Regions from separate parts of the Homo sapiens genome. Here region 1 is linked to region 2. Evidence: fine-mapped QTL for protein levels in blood plasma. A gene starts in region 2. The other region holds a variant in brackets. All regions are shown on one strand. Distances are between the middles of the regions. Region 1 has its middle 17 kb from the start of CHI3L1. Region 2 holds the start of CHIT1 (chitinase 1).

Region 1 (11,940 bases), 26 kb before region 2:
AGGAGTTCGAGACCAGCCTAGCCAACATGGTGAAACCCCGTCTCTACTAAAAAGACTCAGGTGTGGTGGCATGCACCTGTAATCCCAGCTATTTGGGAGACTGAGGCAGAAGAACCCCTTGAACCCAGGAGGCAGAGGTTGCAGTGAGCTGAGATCTTGCCATTGCACTCCAGCCTGGGTGAGAGAGCAAGACCCTGTTTCAAAGAAAACAGGCAAATAAAGCTATCTTCAGACTCTCCATCCTTAGGAGTACTTAGGGGACCAGGCCTCATCCTTAGGCGACCGGGCCCTTTGGCCTGCGATGAGATGAGAAGGTCCTTCCTGAAGCCTGGAGATGGATGCGATTTGAGAACAGCTTATGTGGTAAGGAGGCTGTGGTAGAGAGAATAATGGCTCCCCAAAGATGTCCATGTCTTAGACCCCAGAGCCTGGAAACATGTAACCACACATGGCAAAAGAGACTTTGAAGATGTATCTAAGTTAAGAGTCTTAGTTGGGGAGGTTATTTTGGATTATCTGGGTGGGCCCAATATAATCACAGAGGTCCTTATGAGCGGATGATGGAGGGTCAGACACAGAAAAGGGGATGTGACAAGGGCAGCAGAGGTAGGAGTGATGTGCTCTGAAGATGAAGGAAGGAGCCACGAGCCAAGGGATGCGGGCAGCTTCTAGAAGGTTAGAAAGGCAGGGAAATAGATTCTGCTCTGGAGACTCCAGAAGGAACACAGCCCTGTGGACATCTTGATTTTAGCTTTATCAAACTTATTTTAGGCTTGTAACCTCAAAAAACTGTAAGACATTAAATATGTGCTGTCTTAAGCCATTATAATTTGTGGTAATTAGTTATAGCGGCCACAGAAAACTAATACAGAGATTGTTTTCTCCATTGACAATGAGGAAGCAGAGAGCAGGTGACCTTTCCAAGTCACTTGGCTGCTAAATACAGAGCCTGTACTGGAGCCCAGTCTCTAGGCTTCCTTTGACCAGGCATGGCCCAAGGCAAACCTGAGTGCAGGGAGTGTGAGGACATGCCTGAAAGTGACCTTTCTCCTGCTAGGCAAGGGCCTGGAGGAGGTGAAACCTGCGTGGTCTTCAATGCCCCTGACATTTGAAAGAAAGTGCCAGCTCCTCAATAAAAACATGCTCGAGGCAGACCTACCCAGGTTGGCACTGGATGAAGACCTCCCTGGTGGGGAGAAAGAAGCAGCTGGATTGCATGATCCCTACCCTGTCCCTCGGATTCACCAAGATGCACATTTCCCTTGAGAGGTTGTAGCCAAGGTGGTCTCAGGGGCACTGGTCACCCCTTAACACTCTGGCCCAGGAGGTGGCACAGTCCTCCCCCTGAAAAGCAGAGCCTGAGCCAAGGCATTCAGATAAGACTCAGGGGAGGCTTGAGGGTGAGGCAGGGGAAGTGCACGCTTTGAGGTGGGTCCTGGACAGTCAGACGTTCAAGCTATGCTCGACTCCTGATTCCATACGGAGGGCGCCATCTGTTTAGGGACCCCTGTTGAAAGATGCACCCCTGCTCCCAAGTCGGGGCCCTCTTCCATCTCCCTAAGGCTAGTCTTCTGAGCTCTGGTTTCCAATAAAGATACAACCTTTCCCCAGGGATTGGAGCTGGGCACCTCCTCTTTGTGGAGACAGAGCTCTCTATCTACAGACATGACCTGACTCATCACTCAGGCCACAGCTGAACCGAGAGAATATAACAGTCCCCCAACATCCACATCACTTCCACACTTCCACTGTTTGGGTAAAGCATTACATTACTCTCTGGAGCCCAGAGTCTTTTGGCTGAAAGACTAATTCACTCCATTATTCATCCTGAGGGGCAAGGGAGACTTGCTATGGGTGCCAAGTGCCCAACACATGCTATTCCAGTCACAACCCGCCCTGCCGAATGCTGGAATGGAGGTGTTGGCCTTATCCCTCTCAGTAGGTGAGCAAACGGAAGCTGAGAGAGGATCAGTGCTTTGCCCAAAGTCGTGCACATTTTATGTGGTTGAGCAAGACTTGAACTGAATTCAGCTCTTTCAACACTGAGTGCGAGGGTTGTTTAAGTAAGGCTGCCCTCATGGGATAAAAGGAGAGTGGGAGGAAAAAGAGAGAGAGCCAATATTGTAAGAAAATTCATGAAACACAGTGGGACAATAGGACAGAACAGTTGAAACTGGGACTGTCCTAGATAGCTGGTATAGATCTTGCCAAGAAAGGAAGTCAGAAGCTAACTATAGACTGAGGACCACGGGTGTAAGAACACGGTCAGTCCCTGGATTCTGCCACTTCTCCTTGTTGGTAATTTTCCATTCTCCCCACTGCTCCCCTGCAATGACTAGCACATAAACCCTGAAACTGAAAGGGACAGCTAGGAAGCAGATAGCCAGTCTTTGTCCAGTTCTGCAGCTATTTTAGGGAGAGAAAGAAACTCAACAATATGGTGTTTATGAGGAAAGTTTTGAGAAAACGTAAAAATAAGCGGAAAGGAGAGTGAATCTTTGGTGGCTTAGAAGGATAAACTAAAGAGCTCACAGGAGTCTGCCAGGGACTAAGGGCAGCATGTGTTCATTCTTTCAGGAAAGAGTTACTGAGCCCCTATTAGGTGCCAAGTCCTGGGCTAGGGTGGGGAGAGTGAGGAGTGGAACCTCCTTTAGTTAGGACAGTCAGGGAGGCTTCTCCGAGGAGGTGATCTTAAGCAGAAATCTGAGGGATGAGAGGGAGTCAGCTACCTCAAGAAGAGAGAAAATGATCCAGGCAGAGAACACCATATGCAAAGTCCTGGAGGTGAGAAAGAGCTTAGTGTGTTGGAAAAAAAAAAAGAGAAAAGCACAAGCAAGCTGACCAGCTGGCTAGAGTAGTTTGGGGATGTGGGGAGAGACAAGAGGCCCCGGGGAGAGAGGCAGGTCTGTGTCCTGGGGCCTGTGGAAACCACAGAGGGGTTTTGTCCTCTGTGCAATGGGACACCACTGGATGTTTAAGCAGGTAGTCCAGGATAGAGTTTATGTTTTGGAAAGTCACTCTAGTGGCTCTGTAGGGAATAGATTTGTGGTATGGCAAGAGTGGAAGAGGCATGAACATAAGCAGCTGTTAAAGAGGTCCAGGCAAGAGATGCGGTGGCCTGCCCTGGGCTGGGGACGTGGAGGTGGAAAGAAGGGTGGACTATGGACATTCCTTGGAGGGAACATCCGCACACTTACAGATGAGTTGGATGTAAAAGGATGAGGGAATAGAGGGACCAGGAACCACCCAGGGGGTCCTACCTTTAGCAAGGTGGACAAGGTTGTGCTAATTGTTTAATGTGAGGAATTCATGGGGTGGAGATAAGTTTTAGAGTAGGGGGTCTGTCTCAGCCATATTAAAGAACTGTTTATGCCTTATCTGGGTAGAGAGAGCAAGCGGGCTGGTGGATACATGCATCTGGAGCTTGGAGGAGAGGTCTAGGCTGCGGATACAGTCATTGGTGTCAAGATGCTATTTAAAGCCATGGGAACGGATGAGTTCACGTAGAGCAAGAAGGGCAGAAGCCCATGCCTGAGCCCTGAGGCATCCTGACATTTAGAGATCAGGTGGTGGAAGAGACCCAGAAGGTACAACGGCAACTATATCATTCAGCCCGACATCCACAGGCCCTGCAGGTTCAGCCCCAGTCTGCCAGGTGCTAGGGCCAGCAGAGGAGGGGGACAGGGCCCTTGCCCTCAATGGGCCCAGGGTCTATGTAGAAGGCAGTTGTTGAGCCAATACTTACAATATAATATGGTAAAGATGGGCCCAGGAGAAGGAACTAGAAGAAATGACTGTGGTCCCAGGTCCCAGAAGCTAGGGCTATGACTGAGTCTGGGAGGGGCCATGGGCCTCAGAAAGATGGAGAGAAAAGTTGCAGAGGGCCAGGCGCGGTGGCTCATGCCTGTAATCCTGGCACTTTGGGAGGCCAAGGCAGGCAAATCACGACATCAAGAGATCAAGACCATCCTGGCCAACATGGTGAAACCCCGTCTCTATTAAAAATACAAAAATTAGCTGGGTATGGTGGTCGGTGCCTGTAATCCCAGCTACTTGGGAGGCTGAGGCAGGAGAATCGCTTGAACCTGGGAGGCAGAGATTGCAGTGAGCCGAGATTTCGCCACTGCACTGCAGCCTGGGCGACAGAGCAAGATTCTGTCGAAAAATAAAAAAGAAAAGAGGCAGAGGCTGGGAACTATTCCAGGTCTGGCATCCTTCCCTGAGACCTCCAAGTCCCCTTGAAGCTTGTTGCCCATCCTTCCCTTCCGCTCGCCGCCAGCCTCCCACCCCACCTCCTAGTCCGCCTCCAGTTTCTCCACACTGCCCGATCTTCTTCCAGCAGAGCCCCTACCGCTCATGAGTAACAACATGGAGCCCTGCTCATTCCTCATTCCCATTCCTACCCCAGGCCTCCAGGTCTCCACCCCTTCCCTGACAGGCCAGCCTTCTCAGGAGATGTGTTTTCTACAACTAGGATTAACTTGACAGGAAAATGACCACAGCCTGAAGCCTTGCCCTCCATCAGGGAGGGATGCTGTCTCCAAAACAGTTGCTTCATTTCCTGCTGTTGAGAAATCATGCCTGTTGACCAGCTTACATTTCACATTACTAAGAAAGGAGAGAAATCTGCCCTGCTGAACTTCTTAGACAGAAACTTGGTTAACCCCCTGGGTTTGTGGGTGAGGGTCCTGCACGAACCCCCTTCCCTCCTGTCAGCTGCAAGTGCAGCGGCTGGGCTGCTGGTTTACATTGCTGCCTGGGTCATGGTGCCCACTCAGTTCGCTCTCTCCCATGGCTATGTGCAGTCCACAAACCTGGACCGTTTGGCCTCAGCCTCTCTCCATCCTTATCCCCTCCTGCCTCCCGGGTCTTCGCGTGCCTGGTCCAGTCTGGACACACCCTGGCCCTCAATCTGAGGTCATGGCTCTGAGTCTCATGGCTGACTGCCTGAGACTGCAGTGAGGTCTGAACCCTCATTCAAAACTCGATCTCAGTTCTGTTGTTTCTTTACGTTAGGGTCCCCACAGATCATCCAACCAGAGGAAATTTCCTCTGAACATATTTAATTTGTTCTTTTTTAATTGTTTATGACTCATTTAATCTTGAATTATAATACTTTGTGGGCATGCCTTATCCCCTCTCTTCTAGACTCTATAAACTCCAGAAGCTCAGGCCTTGAATCTGGAGTCAAATCTCATTTATCTTCATCCACAGTCTCAGCCAAGAGCTTGGACATGCTTGTGGAATGGATGAGTTTTGATTAGAATTGTAGAAGGAGAATTTGAGCTGATTGATATGGGAAATGCAACCTAGGGATTGATTTGTTGGTTCTGTACAAAAAAGTACCACTAACAGCTAGGAGCAGAGTCTATAAAGGGGATAGAGAGCAGTTCATTTATTCACTCGTTCATTCAACAAACACATATTAAGCATCTACTATTTGCCAGAAGTAGTATTAGATTCCGGAGATATAGTAACAAACAAGGCTGATAAAGTCCTGGTCACATGGAGTTTCTCTTCTAGCTCAGAAAGACGGATAGTCAACAGCAAACAAACAAACAAACAAAAAACAAAACAAAACAAAAAACACCGCGCAGCAGTAAGTGCCATGATAATAAACAATTTGGAGTGATGTGAGAGAGTGACAGGGAGGTGGTTGAAAGGACTCTCTGAAGAAGTGATGCTTAAGGGGAGACCTGAAGGGTAAGCTGGGCTGCTATGGGAAGATCTGGGCATGGAAAACCAAGCCCAGGAAGCAAGAATAGATCAGACCAAGTTTTGAGGTCAGGGCAGGTGGGGAATAGAGATGGGACGAGTTTAATGGGTTCAGAAAACAGAAAGAAGGAAAGAGTAGCTGGATCATTTGTTCATTGCCTCATGGTGATCAAGGGGGCAATGAACAAAGATAATCAACAGTTCAATAGGAAGATAATGGCAAGGTAGACAATACAAATGGTATAGTATCAACAGCAGAAGCTTTGATCTGCGGATGAATTGGAGTCCTGGCCAATTGTTATGGTGTGTGAGCTTGGGCAACTTTTCTAGGTCTTACTTTTCTCAAGCCTAGTTTTTAGAGTTCTTGCAAAGATGAAATGGTATAATAGAAATGAGCATCTACCAAATGACTTTGTGTAAATGGTAGCCTACAATCCAGGTAATAATCTGAAAACCAGCCTTACAAGATCAGGGTTGACCAGAAGCATGGAGCAGAAAGTAATGACCCAGCAGCTGGGCCTAACGAGCCCTCCTTGCTGCTCCTAACCTCATCACCCTCTTTCCCTCTCCTTTCCACTGGCCTGCCCTTTCCTGCCCTTCACGTTTTCCTTATTTTTCTCTAGTCTTTCTCCTTTTCCTACCACAATTTCTCACTCTTTCTTTCCTTTACATTCTTTTAAGTCACACCATCTCAACTGCCTTCAATTTGGAAAACATATTCTAACATATTGATCATGTTTATTTTGCATGGTTTTGTCTTCCTTTAAAAATCAGGTGTTCTGAATGTTTTATACATCTTTCCTAATTAAAAAGAAACAGCAGCAGCCACATCAAACTTCAGTAATTTTATACAGTGATGTGGCCCTTGTATGATTATGATTTTCCACTGAGGTCACTGCCCCTTAATAGAAAATGGCTCCCACCACTGGATTAAGGGATTAGAAAGAGATTGTCTCAAGGCATTTAGGGTCTGGTGTGCTGGGAGATCTCTCCACTGGCAGGGAGGGGAGGTCTGGATGTGTTCAAAGGTCAGTGGCCTCTGAGTCACTGCAGGGATGCTCTGGAGCACAGCCTGGGCATCTGGCTCCACCGCTGGCTGGCTGAAGCTCAGTGGTTGCTGCAGATGTGGAACCCGAAAGGTGGAAGGGCAGGGAAGGCCTGTGGGGTCAGCTAGTGCAGACTGAGATCCTGAGGAATCTGTAAGGACAGGCTCTGGTGTGAAGTGCAATGTAAGACACCCTCCCTCCCATTGTTCCAGGCCCCTGTGCTTGGCCAAGAAAGGACAAGTTTCCTCTGCAAGCATGCGTGTTGCACAAGGGTGGGGTGTGTGTGTGCGTCTGCTCGTGCACATGCATACACGTGTGTCAGGAGGAGGAAGCCATAGAGCAAGTCCCCCATGTTTAGCTCAGGATGATATTGCAAGGAGTCTTCTGGATGGGGGATCAGGGTGAAGAAGTGATGCTTGATGCCAAGTGGAGACTCTGACCCTCCCTTGCTTTCCTTATTTTCTGAGAAGAGGTACCCAGTGGCTGGCAGTGGCCAGCTGTGGCCAGTAGGTCATCTAGTCCAACCTGCCGACTGTACAATGGGACACAGAGGACTTGGGATGAGAAGT[G/C]ACTTGTCCAGGGGGCAAAGACCTCTTGATCTTCCCTCCATACCAAGTCACATTTGCGTCCAGGCGATGGCAGTAGGAAGATGGTGGGGTGACATTCCTTCTGTACTCTGACTTTAGGGGTCCCAGATGTCGAACATGAAGCCCTGTCCTGGCTCATGTTATGGAGCCAAGTCCCTTCATACTCCAGGGTTGGGTGAAGTAGCTCTGGGTTGTGCAGCAGAAGGCAGCCCAGGACTTAACCGTGGGCACAGATAAGCCACATGTGGCATACAGAGAGCTAACTTTAAACATGGAGAGGGTGGAGGTTTCCACCTCTAAGGAGGCCCAAGTAAGGTCATACGAACTAAGGCTACAGCTTGGCCATCTTACTCTAGATGCCAGGAAGGAGCTTAGGGAAATAAGGGCACCAGCGGGTGGGTCTGGGCTGGTTTGGGTGGACTGGCTCCCCCGTGTCCCTGCTGCTCTGCTTCAGACGAAGGCCAAGGACAAGCAGTGGTAATGGCAGTAGTTGTGGACACCGGGTCCTTGTCCCTTCCCTCTAGATGCCCCCCTTCTCAGGTGACCCCTTTACTGTCCCCCCTTGGAGTGTGATCTCCAAGGGTGGAGCTGCTGAGTGGGTAGGGGGACTGGGAGGTGCCCTCACCTAAGCCTGGGCTTCTGCTTGCCTGGCCTCATCAGTTTATTATTGGCCCGGGTGACAGCTGGGAATGGCAAGGACACCCTGGAGGAGGGAGTGGGTGGGGCTGGGGCCATCCTAAGCCCCCAAGATCCCACATGCCTGTGGTGGGGGCCAAGGAATGAAAGGAATGTCTGCATGCTCTCCCTTCCTCACTCCCACCCTGAGCAAAATGAGGCGAGGCCCAAGACAAATGTCAATGTGGGCCTTTGGAAGGGTTGTTTCTTTCCTTGAGATATATTTGAAATACATTTGTTGCCTTAATGCCTGAATTAATTAAGAGGGATCTGGCTACTTTCTCTTGGCACCAAGCTCTGAACAAGGGGAAATGGGCATTACTAACAGGAAGAGACTGAATGAGCATAAAGAGCGCTTGTTAGTAGTTAATCTACCCTAGACCAGGAGGTTGCATCTGGGGAGGAGGCCTAGGAAAAGCACGGTGTGGAGGAGGGGGTTGCCGGGAGACCCTGCAGCTGCACCCAGCTCCACCAACCTTTCAGACGCACCCCTGTCTACTGCTTTGTCACCTTTTTCATTCTGCATCTCAGATGGAGCTGCTCTCTTAGCCAGGATCCCCTTCAGTTCCCCCCAAACTCAGCAACACCAGGCCCTAGAGTCAAGGGACATGCATTTCCCATGTGAGAGCTTTATACTGTAGGAAAAGCGGCATCTTCAATGGCATTTACAATTGATAAAAGAAAAACTTCAGCTGGGCGCAGTGGTTCATACCTGTAATCCCAGCACTTTGAGAGGCCAAGGAAGGTGGATCACCTGAGGTCAGGAGTTCAAGACCGGCCTGGCTAACATGGTGAAACCCCACCTCTACCAAAAAGACAAAAATTAGCCAGGTGTGGTGGCACGCACCTGTAATCCCAGCTACTCAGGAGGCTGAGGCAGGAGAATCACTTGAACTTGGGAGGCGGAGGTTGCAGTGAGCTGAGATCACTCCACTGCACTCCGGCCTGGGCGAGAGAGTGAGACTTTGTGTCAAACAAAACAAACAAACAAACAAACAAAAAACAAACTACAGCTGAAAGAGTTTAAGGAGTTTAATTGAGTTTAATTGAGCAATGAACGATTCACAAATTGGGCAGCCCCTAGAATCACAGCAGATTCAGAGTCTCCAGGGGTGCCTCGTGGTCAGAACAAATTTACAGACAAAAAAGAAAAAGTGAAGTACAGGAATTGGAAGGGAAGCACAGAAACCGGGAGATTGGTTACAACTTGGCGTTTGCCTTATTTGAATGTAGTTTGAACATTCAGCAGCATATCAGTAATTGAAGTATGGCTGCTGGGATTGGCCAACACTCAGCTATTGTTACAGGTGCACACTACTAAGTTAGGTTTTCAATTTTGTCTGACTATTAAGCTAGGTTACAGTTCATCCACAAGGACCCAAATATGGAAGTATGGAGTCCTTCTCAGGCCGTAGTTAGTTTGCTTTAACACAATGTAGGGAAAGGCTGTACCTGTGGGAGGGGACATGGAGCCAGGGGAGAAGAAAGAAGGAGGGAAGAATGGAGGGAGCAGGTTTATTGAGCCTGGATCCTCTGGAGATCCCTGGGGGAATCTGTGGATTCCTTCAGTGAGAGAAGTGAGGGCAGTGCCTCAAGATGAACAACCTCCCCAGAAGGTTCTTAATTATTCGTGGCACTTTCAACAATCTGGTGTCACTCAGCGACTTCTGGGAAAACCACAGGTTTATGGCATCTGCTCTATCCCTCTCCAGGGACACTTAAGAGGGACAGATGGGAGGGAGAGAGCACTAGCCACTACCTTGATTTTATGTCAAATAAGGGCTCTTGCACAGGAAACAGAGATGCTGAGTTCTGAGTAAGACAAAAGCAAGCTCTAATGCCACTTCCTACCACCCTCAGTACCATTTGGGGAGAAAGAGGAGGATCTTGGCCTAAGAAGGGACAGAGAGTTTCAGCTTTCTACCTACTAGAGGGAAAATAGAAAATGCAATAGCCCTGTAGCCAACAAAGACACTAAATCAGTGGTTAAAAATTATCCTTAAAAAAAGCATCGAGCTGATGGCTTTACTGGTGACTGCTACCAAATGTTCAAGGAGCAGATAAGTCCTTTTAACACATCTATCAAAAAATAGAATGAGGGGACCTTCCCAGCTTGATATCCCAGAATCTTGATACCCCAGATCAGTTTATTATTGGCCTGGACAACAGCTGGAGGTGGTGAGGACTTCCTAGAGTGTAAGAAAGAAAACATGCAGGTCCATCTTACTCACTAACATATGTGTGAAAATGTGAAAAAAAAAAACTAATCCAGCAAATTACAAAAAAAAATTAATATAGCATGACCAAGCTGGCTCAATCCTAGAAATGTAAGATGAATTTAACAGGGGAAAATGAATATGATTTATTACCAGAATAAAAGCAAAAATTTATAAATGGAAAACCATATGACAAAACTTACATCCATTCTCATAAAAACTCCTGGCAAATTAGGAGTAGAAGGACTTCTTTAGTCTTGTTAAAGGCATCTATGCAAAACCTACAATAAATGGCATATTTAACACTGAAATATTGAAAGCATCCTCTTTCAGGCCAAGAACAAGACAAAAATGTCCATTATCACTGCTTACACTCACCACTGTACTGGATGTCTTAGAGCAGTTTGCAAGACAAATAAACAAAAGTTATATGGTTTAGAATGGAAGAAACAAAACTTATTTCTGCAGATGATATGACATGACTACCTACATAGAATGCTGTGCAGAATTTGCAGAACAATAATCATCAAACTTAATCAGAGAGTTAGAAAAGTTGCTGGATACAACATCAACATACAAAAGTGGCATTACCATACACCAACAACAGTTGGTTAGAAAATTTAATTTTTACCATGGATAAAATTTATAACCGTAATCAAAAATTTAAAATACCTAGGAATAAATCTAATAAAAGATGTATGAGACCTTTAAGAAAAAATTTATAAAATTTTATCAAAATATATTTAAGAAGACAACTAGGGCCAGGCACAGTGGCTCACACTTGTAATCCCAGTACTTTGGGAAGCTGAGGCCAGGAGTTCGAGACCAGCCTGGGCAACATAGGGAGACCCTGCCTCTATTATAAATAGAAAACATTAAAAAAAGCAGTAGAAGACAACTAAACAGATATACCATGTTTTTAGATAAGGAGACTTAATATCATACAGATGCCAATTCTTCTCAATCTATAGATTCAGTGCAATTATAATCAAAACCTGGACAGAATTTTTAATGGAATTTGGCAATATAATTCTAACATATACATGGAAAAGTAAGAGCTAAGAACATCCAAGACATTTCTGAAACAAAGAACACAGTATAAAGATTTGCTGTAATAAATATCAGGATTTATTATAAGGCTTTAGTAATTAAGATAGTGAGTTATTGGGGCAGCAAAAGAAAAATACACCAATGGAACAGAAAGATTCCCATGTGTGTACAGAAACATAATTTGTTTCAGGGATGGTATTGTAGGTTAGTATGAAAGGGATAGATTATTCAATAAATAGTGCTTGAATAACCAGTTATCCGTATAGAAAAAAAATTAGATACAACCTTACAGCATATTTAAATGGCAATTTCAGTAAGACTAAAGGCTTAAGTGGGAAAAAAGCTACAAAACTTTTAGAAGATAATATAGGAAAATAGCTCTTGACTTCAGACTAGAGAAAAATTTCTCAAGATACAGAAAGTAAAAACCATAAAGAATAAGATTGGTAAATCTGACTACATTAAAGGCACCTAAGGAGAATGAAAAGCCAAGCCTCAACCCAGAAGATTTAGCCAAACCTGCAGTCATGAGTGGATTTGTGTTCGGAGCATGGAAAGAACGCCTACATTTCAGTAAGAAAGATATAAACAACCCAATAGAAAAATGACAAGAGACACATTGGACTATTCACAAAAGACAAACACATATTG
Region 2 (11,940 bases):
AAGTTTTAGAAAGACTGTTTAGAGCTTTGGGAGCCCTATATTCTGGATTTTCTAGAAAACACCAAGTTTCAAATACTCCATTCCATTTTCTCCATAAATCATTTAAAAAATGTCCCCCAAATGCCAATACTCTGGCATCCAGGCTCAATCTCACAGATTACCTTTTGTACTCAGAAGTGGAATAAACACTCTTTCTGGGACAAGGTACCCCATTTCTGAGCTCAGAAAACATAGACACTGCATGTTGTCAGGATTAGTTGGGACCCTCCCTCTTCTCATTTCATGGAAGACGAGACTGAGGCTTGGAGAGGTCTGAGCCCTCTGCTGTGTTTAGACCTATGCTTCTGGCAAGACTGGATCTGAAACAGCCTGGAGCAAAGCTCACTGTGCTGCCCTCCAGCTGAGGTGCCAAGAACCCAGAAGGAAATTCAGCCCTCAGAGTTCAGCTCCCCTCCCCTTTCCCCTGACCACACCTCAGCCTGGCCTGATTCCCTGACCAGGGCTCCCTCTGGCCAGTGCACCAGGTTCCCATCCAGGAGCTTTACCACACAGGTGACCACAGTCAACTAACTTCTGAGTGCCGAAATTCCAGCCTCCGATGGCTAACAGGGTCTTCAGCTTGGGATTCCTGGGAAAGACAGGAGACACAGCAGGATTTACTCTGCCAGCTCCCAGGGCACCCTGGCAGGGATGTTACAGTGGGGAGGAACAACAGGGGTGGGGACGTGTGAAAGTGCCTATGTGCAGAGACTGTATTAGGCATTCTGGGGACAGCTGTAGATTGGAAAAGGGAAGTCACGTTCCTGACTCACAGAACCACCTGTCTAACTGTGTGGGCTCAGGAAGCAAGGATTGGGGCAGATTCTCAAGAGGCTTTGTGAAGGCGCCCAGAACACTGGAGCTGAAGGGTGGATCAATTTCATAATGAGGAAGGGGCTTCATGGGAGACAGAAAGAGTCTCACAATCCTGATCACACTTAGACCTAAACTGGAAGGGACCTTTGGGATCCCCTAAGCAAACCCTACCTCTTTCATTAAGCACAGGAGAGCCCAGAGAGGTGATACAACTTGCCCAAAGCCACACAGTGGGTCTGTGGCAGGACCTTAGTGCTGGAGAGGTGTCTGGCTCTGGGAGGAGGTTATCTGTCACCCCACCACATCCCACCCACCCTGCTCCTCTGCTTTGGCTCACATCTTCTTCAGGCCATTGAACTCCTGGTAGAGAGTCTCGTCATTCCACTCAGTGGTGCTCAGCTGGTGGTTGGTCATGCCAGCGAAGGCGTAGATGAGGTGGGTGCAAAGGCTGGGGTCCAAGTCCTTGGGCAGGAAGCGAGCCTCCCCCTGTCTGTACTGGGCCCAGTTGGTGAAGTAGCAGACCAGTTTTGCAGCAGAGCCTGGCCCGTTGGAGTAAAGAAAAGGGATAGCTGTCAGCAGGACCTTCTGGGGACTGGTCACCCTCCATCTGGGGTAGGCAATGTCCTTGGACCTCCCTCTTCTACACCTGGAGTCAGTGGAGGGACCCGACAGGCAGAAATGGCATTTGCTTTTGTGTGGATGGAGTCTGGCAGTTGGGAAAGCATTTTCAGAGGCCAGACATGGGATCCTCAGAACACTGAGTGGGCAGGACCATCATCTTCTAAGCCTTCTTTTCCCGGGAAGCAAGTTGAGGCTCACGAGCTTGGGGCCCGTCCCCATCAGCATGGCTGCTAAGAGGGCAGAGCAGAGGTGCTGCGACCCAAGTCTCATGACTCCTTGACATCCTTGAAAGTTGCTAGTCTCAGAGTCCGAGCTCCCAGGATCAGGGTCTGGCAGGCAGGTCTCCCTATCCCCAGTTAGGGTCTCCCCTCCAGGCCCTGAAACCTGACAGAAGGTAGCCCCAGGCAGCCCCAACATGAGGCCTAGAGGGAATTAGACATGGCATGCTCATCTGCAGAAGGAAGGCAGGCAGAACTTTCAAAAACGGTTTGGAATACCTCAGAATACTTCGTTAAAATGCAAACAGATAAGTAGCAGAGAGGAGGCCCCAGTTACAGGCCTGGGTTTATGTTTCTTTAGTCTTGCATTAAAGCCATTTGCATTTGCTTGTTATCCCTTGTAGATAATCTACGTTTATCAATATCACTGCTGAGATTCTAATAGAGCTAATTTTATCTAGGAGAAGGCATCTTGTCTCTAAGTACCCCACACACTGTAGGGTACTTGTCTCTAGAGTACCCTACAGTGTGTGAAAAGACTTTGCAGGGGTGGGATGGTCTATTCCCAGTGAGGGCTCGGTGGTGATGACCCCCACTGAGGTCAGCCCTGTGCAGGGTTGACCAGGACACCAGGAAGCAAGAATGCTAGTCTTCATTCCAGCATCTGCCAAAAATAGACTTTGGGTCTATCTCATCTTCAATCCCGGCCCCATCTGATAATGACTGTGTGGTCTGTGGGGTCTCTTCCAGTCTCTCAATCTATGATGGTGTGGTTTGTATGAGCCAACATTTTATGCCAAGATCTTGATGGAGCAGTGAGTTTGGACTGGAGCGTGCCTGTGGCTGGTGTCTAGAACCTGGGACTTCCCTTTGCCCCAGCAGGGTCTGTCTGTACCCCCTCCAATGCCCACATGGACAGGGATGGGACGAGGAAGAGGAGGGGTGCAAAGTGTCTATAGGAGAGTTTTGGGAAGAGACCGCTCAGGCAGGCCTCAACTAGAACCCGAGAGCATGGAGGGCTGACCTTGGGCATACACGTGGCCCCGGAGTGGTCACTGTCTCTAACCAGAGGTCACCCAGGAGTGCAGCTTGCTAGTGGGGCTGGGGTGTAGCCTGCAATGATACAGGAGAATTGGTGAACTCCCCAAAGGAAAAGAAAGGAAGGAGGGGATGAAACCAGATAACTCATCCCCCAGGCCATGTAGGAAGGAGCCAGGAAGCTCTTTTTCTATCATGTCATGCTGTCGCATATCAAATATTGTTATGAATTTCTGTACTATGGAGAAAATAAAGTGCAGTGGTTAACAGCAGGGACTCTGGCATGTCAGTGTCTGGGTTGAAATCCCAACTTTGCAACTTACTCGCTGTGCGACTCAGCTTCCTCCTGTGTGAAACGGGGAGACCATTGGACCTTCCACAATGTGTGTCACAGGACCCCAGTGTGGGCTAAAGTTAATATATGTAAAACACTCGGAGGAACACTGCAAGGAAGAAGTTCTGTTCTAGGTGCTTCACATATATTAACCCTTAGTCCACACAAAGTCCTACTATTATTACTATACTGCAGAAAGCCCAGAAGTAGCCTGGACTAAAGCTTTTTGAGAAATCTTCCACCTCTCATCTTCCCCATGTTTGCTGTTTCTGTGCCCCCGGCTGTTCCATCCTATGAGGCTGAGAGGGAAATGTACCTCCAATGCTACAGCCCAGCGTGAGAGGCACAGTCGCAGGACAAGTTCTGAGAGGCCAGCATTCCCAGGCCACTGATGCCCAGGGAATGGGGTGGGACAAGACGGGGACCAGGAGTTCAAGTTGCTGAAGGTCCCCCAGGTCTCTTTTCCATTTGACACAACAAGGAGCTCCCTCCTGCCTCTCTCAAGCTCCACATCTGATCAGTTCAACAGACCAGAAGCAAGTGTGTTGTCCTCGCAGAGCTAAGGGGCTGGGGATGCTGAACCAGATGAGACTTAGGTTCCTTACCTGCAGCAACTTGGAGTCTGAGACTGGTGCAGAGAGACACCTAAGCCAATAATGAGAGGCAGTACTGTACTGTAAAACACACAGGTGCTGCAAGAGCACAGAGTGCAGAGGAGGGAGCCAGCAACCCCAGGAAAGGAAAGCCCTGAAAGAGGCTGATGCGCAAGCTGGCCCCACAGATGTGCAGGAGCTCAGCTAATGGATAAGGAGGCAAGAGCCTTCCTGGGAGGGCTGGTAGCAGATGGGGACATTTGCAGGGGTCTGAGCTTTGGAAGAGAGTCCCCACTGAAATCTGGAGCTCTTGGGGAGGTCTGGCAGGGAAGGTGTTTTGGGACATTAAGCAGAGCCCAGGGAAGGGGCTGAGGCAGCCAAGAAAGAGGCTACTTACCCCATGGGATCATCAGCAGGACCATGAAACCTGGAGCAACACAAGAGAGAAGGCCAGGGTTATGCTGCCATTCTCACCTTCCCAGGCCCCACAGCTTACGGAAGCACAGGAGGTGGTCAGGGAGGGCTGATTTCATACAAATCAAGCTTTCTCCTTTCAGAAGGGACCCAGGAGGGCACTGTGCCCATCCCTTCATGCAGACCAGACCACGGGGGTCTCTTCCTGGCCTGGGTTGGTCCTAGAAGCTGATGGAAAGTTCCATGGGCTGAGGCTGCCCCCTCTCTATACCTCAGTAAAGGGCAGTGTGGATTCAGGAAGATTGTGGAAAAACTGCTGACTTGTGAGTTATTTAGAGAGATAGTTTCTCTTTCGGAACAAGAAACAAGCCTGTTTTGGGGCTAGAAAGAATCAATCTGGAAGGGCTGCATGGAGAGAGTTCATCTCCTGGGGAGGGCCTGTGCCTCTGCTCCCATCGTTTATGGCTTCCTGTTGCCTTTCCGCTACCTGGCTGTGGTAGGCAACCACAGCCTTGGAGACCTAGGGTCTGACAGGACTCCTTCGAAGAGATCTCTTTCACCTGGTGACCTTGGACTTCTCTGTCAACCTAATAGAACCTCCATGAAAATTTGCAAGGATGCCCAGGATCTTGGCCCCAGGCTGCCCTCTTGCAGGACAGACAATATGAGGTTGGAGAAGAGGTTCTTGGCAGTGGGCGCTTCTTGGATAAGGCCAACAGGAGGGACCTAAGAACATGGGAAAGACACAAAGACCCAGTGCAGGGGCCTCATTGACTCTGGGCTTTCAGGACAGAGAGAGGAAAGTCAAGTCATCTTCAGCCTGTTGAGAAAAGCCTTCCCTTGCAACATGAAGTCTCTTGGGCTGAAAGAGCCTAAGGGGGAGCCCACAGGAAAGGTAATCAAGGGACTGCAAGCCAGGAGGCATGGAGAGGGATAAAATGACCCTCTGAAGTTCTCCTGAGTCCTCCTGCTTCCTTGCAAATGGTAGCAAGTGGTCCCTGAACATCCACATCCCCACCTCCCCACAGCTCCCGAGACCCAGCCCACTATCCGACGGCTCACCTGCCCAGGCCACAGACCGCACCATGATGCAGCTCAGCGGCAGGCTGCAGCCCATACAAACCAGCTTTCCAGGTCCTGCTCTGCTTTTATCTGGCCACCCTGTCCCACCCCAGCCAGGAGTGTTGCAATCAGGGGCACTGGGTGGGGGGGATGGGAGCAGGGTGGGGAGGGGTAAGATGTCAAGCAGCATGAATTGGGCAAACTTGACACAATGGCCTTTAGCAATTCTTGCTTTTCTGGAACAATCAGAGGGTGACTCTTAGTGTTGCCAAACAGAGGAAAGCGGGAAGTGGCCCTGAACCTCCTGATGGATGAGCATGACCCTGACTTTCTTTGTGTAGTTGGTGAGGACCATAAGCAGCCCCAGACTTAATAGGGCTTTGGAGGAAGAGAAATGACTCACGAGTCAGGCAGCTGGGTTCCAGACCAGCTCTCTTGCTTCTCCACTGCCCTCTCTCAAACTGTTTCTCCATCTAGAAGATAATGGGGTTGCAAATATAATTTACTTTTCATGATAGTAATAGTTGCATATCCATTGATGGAGAAAAATAGATAATGATAAATAGTGACTATAAGTTTGGTAATGGCTTGAAATGCCTATGTTTCTTATGAAGAATAATAATGGTGGACATTTGGGCCAGGCATGGTGGCTTACACATGTAATTCCAGCACTTTGAGAGGCCGAGGCAGGTAGATCACCTGAGATCAGGAGTTCGAGACCAGCCTAACCAACATGGAGAAACCCCATCTTTACTAAAAATACAAAATTAGCCTGGCATGGTGGCACATGCCTGTAATCCCAGTTACTCGGGAGGCTGAGGCAGGAGAATTGCTTGAACCCAGGAGGCGGAGGTTGTGGTGAGCCGAGATCGCGCCACTGCACTCCAGCCTGGGCAACAAGAGTGAAACTCCATCAAAAAAAAAAAAACAAAAAAAAAAAAACAGAAGAATGGTGGACATTTGTGTCGGTTTCCCAGAGCTTCTGTAACAAATGGCCACCAAACAGGTGATTTGAAACAACAGAAGTTTATTCTTTCACAGTTCTGGAGGTCAGAAGCCTGGAAACAAGGAGTTGGCAGGGCCATGCTTCCTCCGAAGGCTCCAGGGGCGAATACTTCCCAGCAGCTTCCAGCTTCGGATGGCCTGTGGCATTCCTGGGCATGCAACGGCATCGTTCCAGCCTCTGCCTGCCTCCATTTTTACACGCCCTTCCTCGCTGTGTCTCTGTATGTCCCCTCCTTTCTGTCTCTGAGAAGGACATTCTAATCCAAGATGATCTCATCTTGAGATCTTTACCTTCATTACATTTGCAAAGACCCCTATTACAAATACAGTCACCTTCTGAGATTCCAGGTGAAGTTATCCTTTGCGGGGGGTGGGAGGGGGTCACCATTCAATTCACCACAGGACCCAAGTGGGCACATATTACTGTAATGTCTGCAGACAATGTCTGGTGTATGCATGAACTCCAGGGTCCCTGAGAAAGCTCTGCAGTTTCTAGGGGATCCAGTCTTTGGCCGGTGGGCTTAACATGAATGGCCTAGATGGCCACGTGGGAATATTGGGTGCGGCAGGCTGTGGAGTTAGGTTCCTGAGTTTGAATTCCTCCTCTGCCATTTACTATCTGTGTAAACTGAAGTGAGTTCCTTAATTTCCCTGAACTCCAGTTTCTTCATCTGTAAAGGGGAATCCTCAGAGGACTGTTGGGAACGCACTCCATGGTGGCTGCTATTATTCCTGGTTCTGCCAAGTGCTGCCACTTCTGCTGGTCTAGGGGTGTCAGAGGGCTCTAGTAACCTCTTCGAGGCCCCTGAGAGTGTTGGACCTCAGCACTCAGATGGACCAGCCCTAAGTCCTCCCTTTCCCTGCTGCAGTCATGGCTTCTGTTTCTGCTGTGGTCAGCCCTTTCTCTTGGGGATCCTGCAAAAGAGCCTGTTCAGGGTCACCTGAGATGTGCAGAGGTGCCTCAGCTCCTTGGTGGTGGGGGAGTGAGAGTGGGATGCAGGAGTGAGGACTGGGAGGTCCTGAGCCTCGGGGAGGAGAGGCTTCTCTGGAGAGTTAGGGGCCACCTTATCTCGCCCCCGCCTCCATATACACAACTGACCTGTCAGTTTCATGAATTTCTCGCTATGCCTCATGTCCCCAGGAGGACATGCACTGCAGTGCCCAGAATCTGAGTTTCTCCAAACACTGCCCCATCCCCTATTGTCTTTAGGTTTTCTAGAAAAACAGATCAAAAATAATAACAGAGTTTGGTAATATGGCTGGATTTAAGGTGAATGTACAAAAATGAATAGCTTTTCTCTACATTAGCAATAACCAATTAGAAATAGAAGTGAAGGAAATGTCTGATTCACAGAAGTGTCAAAATCTATAAAATATTTATAAATAAATTTAATAACAATAATAAGTTTAATAGTAGAATCTATAAAACTTACCCACAGGATATAAATTTGCAATAGGATCTGAACATGTTCTTGCACGGGAAAACAATATCATAACAAATGTCAATTTTTGTCAACTAAAATACAAAACCAGTAATGATGGTGACACACTATACAAAACTTATTATAATTCCATTGGGATTAAAATAGCATGGAATTGCCACCAGGACAGACAAACAGAGGTAGGTCTGAGCATATATGGAGAGGGTGTGTGCAATGAAGGTAGCAGTTCAAATGAATAAGAAAAAGATGTTTTATAAATGCCAATGACTTAATTGTCTACCAATCTGGAAAGAATCAAAGTTAGGCCCCTCACACCATATACAGCAGAAATGACACGTGGTAAATGAAGGTGGGCACAGGGAGCAAAGGAGCTCAAGGAGAAACACCAGCCAGGGTGGGGTGGGAAAGCCAGTGGAGTGATGCTTGAACAGAGCTTTGAGAATAAGTAGGTTGCTGGACAAAGAGAGAAAGGGAAGGAAGTTATAACAAACACACCAGATGTTCACTGATGGAGCCTCTCAGTGAGGAAACTGCCCACGATACATGCAGGGACAGTGGGACATCATTAAAAACTCTGTGTCCTGTCGGTTGAGAACCACTGGTTGAGGTAGGCAGGTGGGGGTGATCTCTGCTGAGGGGCTCTGTGTAAAAGGGCACTGGACATGGCTGGAGGGAGAGGAGAGAGATACAATGCCTTGCCAGCCTGGATTTATTTTACAGTATGCCTCAGTCTAGTAGGGCACATCCTGGGCTCACCTGATGGCCAGACCTGAATTGCAAGATTTCAAGGAATAAGTCCCTGCCTGGAGGCTGAGACCTGGGAGCAGAAGGCAGGCCCATGTCCACCAAAGCTGGGGAGGAGCCTTCCCCAGGGACTGACCCAGAGTTCCCACCTAAGTAGGCAGGTCCCAGCCACCAGTACAGATTGCCCATGTGTAGAACTGAGAGGTCTCTGATGCCTTCAGCAAACTTCAATTAACAGCCCACCACACCTTTGCTCCTAAATTGTGTCCCTCCTGGGGCTGCCCTCCCTGGCCCTCAAGTCCTACAGAGATCACTCTGAGTTAAGCCTTGCCTCTTCCACAGTCAATGTACTCCATACTACCTTCTGCTATCTTGGAACAACTCCTTCCATCCAGAATAGGAAAGAACCCTGGCTTGGAGACAGACAGAACTGGGTGTATCTCAATGGATATCACCAATAAATTACTTTCATAGATTTTATACTCTCCTTTCCAGCCCCATTGGCTTCTCCCACCCCTTTCTCAGCCACTGCCAAAGCCCAAACCAAGTAAAACCAGTGTGCTTGATATAAAATGAGGCTTCAAAGCAAGTCCCCGTCCCACCCTACTGCAGAGCAGATGCCTGTATAGAAATTCTAAAGCTTCTGCTGATTTGCATCCAACCTGGCTGGCTGAGCTGGGGCTAGTCACAGCCTCTCCAAGCCTTGGTTTTCTCATCTGTAAAATGGGGATAATACTACCTATCTTATTTGGTAATGATGTGGATCGAATAGATAATGTGTGAGAGGGCTTTGTAGGTGGGAGGACGCCAGCCAGATCTCATGGGACTGCATCTTGATGGTTGGTATCACACCTTTTTCTCTTGCTTCATGTGAGCATCTCATCTCTGTAGCTGGACTGTCCATAGCCAGGCAGAGTGGGGCCTCTCTCCACACCTCTCTATGTGTCCCTCAGCACCAAGCATACAGGGGGTCTTCAATTAATGTTTGTTAACTGTTCCTTCCCACGTCCCACCGTGTTCTTCCCCTTAGCAGTAAAAGACATCACCACCTATCCGGGTCTCCAAGTCACCCAGGAAGTGTCCTTGATCCTTCCCTTTCCTCACCCTCAATGATCAGGACCTATTAGACATCCTGCCTCCTGCTCCATCTCCTCCACCTCCTAACCACCGTCAACTCCCACCCTGTCCCCAGAAGAGCCTCCTACCTGCCTTCCTTCCTAATTCTCTTGCCTCTGCAATCCATTCTCCACACAGCAGCCAGAGTACACTTTGAGAAACTTAAATCAGATCCTGTTGCTTTCCTGCTAAGACCTTGCAATGGTTCCCACTTAAAATAAAATATCAACTCCTTAACTCTACCTCTAGAACACTCTAACTCTATTCTTTCATTAGGACAATGTTCTTTCAAAGGACACCTTCTTGGCAGGGAAGATAATTTATCACTGGACATAACTAAATTAAAAAAACAAATTTTTGAAGCCTCTCAGGCTCACTTATCCATTGTGCCTGGAGCTGAGGCGTTAGATCAGGTGGCAGAAAATCTTTATGGACTAAACCCCACGACTTTGATTAAGTCTATTGGAGGCCCCACTCTAGTAAATTTTGGAATTATGTTTCTCTGTTTAACCAGCTTGTCTTTAGTGTGTCAGACAAGTCAAAGAATCCTGCATCAAAATCGAGAGAATGAACAAGCCTTCATCGCCATGGCACATTTATATAAAAAGAAAGGGAGAGATGTTGCGGGAAGTCAGGGACCCTGAACGGAGGGACCGGCTGAAGCCATGGCAGAAGAACATAAATTGTGAAAATTTCATGGACATTTATTAGTTCCTCAAATTAATACTTTTATAATTTCTTACGCCTGTCTTTACTGCAATCTCTGAACATAAATTGTGAAGATTTCATGGACATTTATCACTTCCCCAATCAATATTCTTGTGATTTCCTATGCCTGTCTTTACTTTAATCTCTTAATCCCGCCATCTTTGTAAACTGAGGATGTATGTTGCCTCAGGACTCCGTGAGGATTGCGTTAACTGCATAAATTGTTTAAACAATATGAAATCTGGGCACCTTGAAAAAAGAACAGGATAACAGCGATGTTCAGGGAACAAGGGAGATAACCATTAGGTCTGGCTGCCTGACAGCCAGGTGGGACAGAGCTATATTTCTCTTCTTTCAAAAGCAAATAGGAGAAATATCGCTGAATTCTTTTTCTCAGCAAGGAACATCCCTGAGAAAGAGAATGCATTCCTAGGGGGAGGTCTCTAAAATGGCCGCTCTGGGGACATCTGTCTTTTACTGTTGTAGATAAGGGATGAAATAAGCACCAGTCTCCCGTAGCACTCCCAGGCTTATTAGGATGAGGAAATTCCTGCTTAATAAATTTTGGTCAGACCGCTTGTCTGCTCTCAAACCCTGTCTCCTGATAAGATGTCATCAATGACAATGCATGCCCGAAACTTCATTAGCAATTTTAATTTCGCCCCGGTCCTGTGATCTCGCCCTGCCTCCATTTGCCTTGTAATATTTTATTACCTTGTGAAGCATGTGATCTTTGTGACCCACACCCTATTCATACACTCCCTCCCCTTTCGAAAATCACTAATAAAAACTTGCTGGTTTTGCAGCTTGGGGGGCATCATGGAACCTGCTGACATGTGATGTCTCCCCCGGACACCCAGCTTTAAAATTTCTCTCTTTTGTACTCTTTCCCTTTATTTCTCAGACCGACTGACACTTAGGAAAAATAGAAAAGGGCCCACGTTGAATATTCAGGGGCGGGTTCTCCTGATACCTTTGCACCTGCCATTGCCTCTGCCCACAATGTTCTTCTCTGTGATCTTCACACAGCTGGCTCCTTCTCCTCATTCATGCTTTTCCTGACCACTCATAGAAAGTAGTGCCCTCCCCTCAAGTCACTCTCTGTTCTCTCCTGATGATTTATTTTCTCCTAAGTACTTTCATGGCTGAATTCATTCATTCATTCATTCATTTGTGTGTAGTGTCTGTTTCCTACCACTAGAATGTAAGCTTCATGAGAGGAGGGACTTTTCTTGTTTAGTCCTCTTTGTCTAGTACCCAGAATATTTCCCAGCACATAGTAGGTGCTTAATCCATATCTATTGAATTAATTAATTAATTAATGTGACCTCTCTGCATGATCTGGCCCACTATGATATTGTGATATAAGAAATGTATATTTGGTCTTTGTCCCCAATTTCTGGCACGGAGCTCCTAAAACCCTTAAAATTTCTTGAGAAATAGGGGTTCTAGGTGCATCTCTTGTTCTAATGTTTAGCCTTTGACCCTAGTTTTGACACAGAACTCCTAAGCCCTTGGAACTTCCTGGGTACTAGGAGCATCTTTTGTTCCAAAGAGGTGCCTCTTTGTGGGCATCTGGAGGGGGGTTGGTCACCAGAAAGACCAAGCCATGATGAGAAGTTTGGAACCTTCAGCTCCACCCCCCATCCTCTGGGAAGGGGAGTGGGGCTGAAGACCACGTAATCATGCTTATGTGGGGAAGCCTGCATAAAAGTCCATTAACTAGGCTGGGTGCAGTGGCTTATGCCTGAAATCCCAGCACTTTGGGGTGCAGAGGCAGGAGGATTTCT

What was found. A credible set is the group of variants that fine-mapping cannot tell apart. PIP is the posterior inclusion probability: the model's chance that the variant is causal. Protein levels are from the aptamer-based SomaScan assay of Sun 2018.
Region 1: its variant is the best candidate, but not a certain one, in a credible set for the plasma level of the CHIT1 protein (Sun 2018, PIP 0.90).

The regions. Positions count from the first base shown.
Region 1 is chr1:203,198,212-203,210,151 of GRCh38, forward strand. No RefSeq gene overlaps it. Among named protein-coding and RNA genes, the nearest start is that of CHI3L1, 17 kb to the left of the region's middle. The variant G/C (reference allele first, on the strand shown) is at 7,331.
Region 2 is chr1:203,224,477-203,236,416 of GRCh38, forward strand. It overlaps CHIT1 (chitinase 1), which reads right to left and starts at 5,197. Exons shown (of 11, transcript NM_003465.3): 1 at 5,136-5,197; 2 at 4,057-4,086; 3 at 1,193-1,394; 4 at 572-628. The coding sequence starts at 5,160.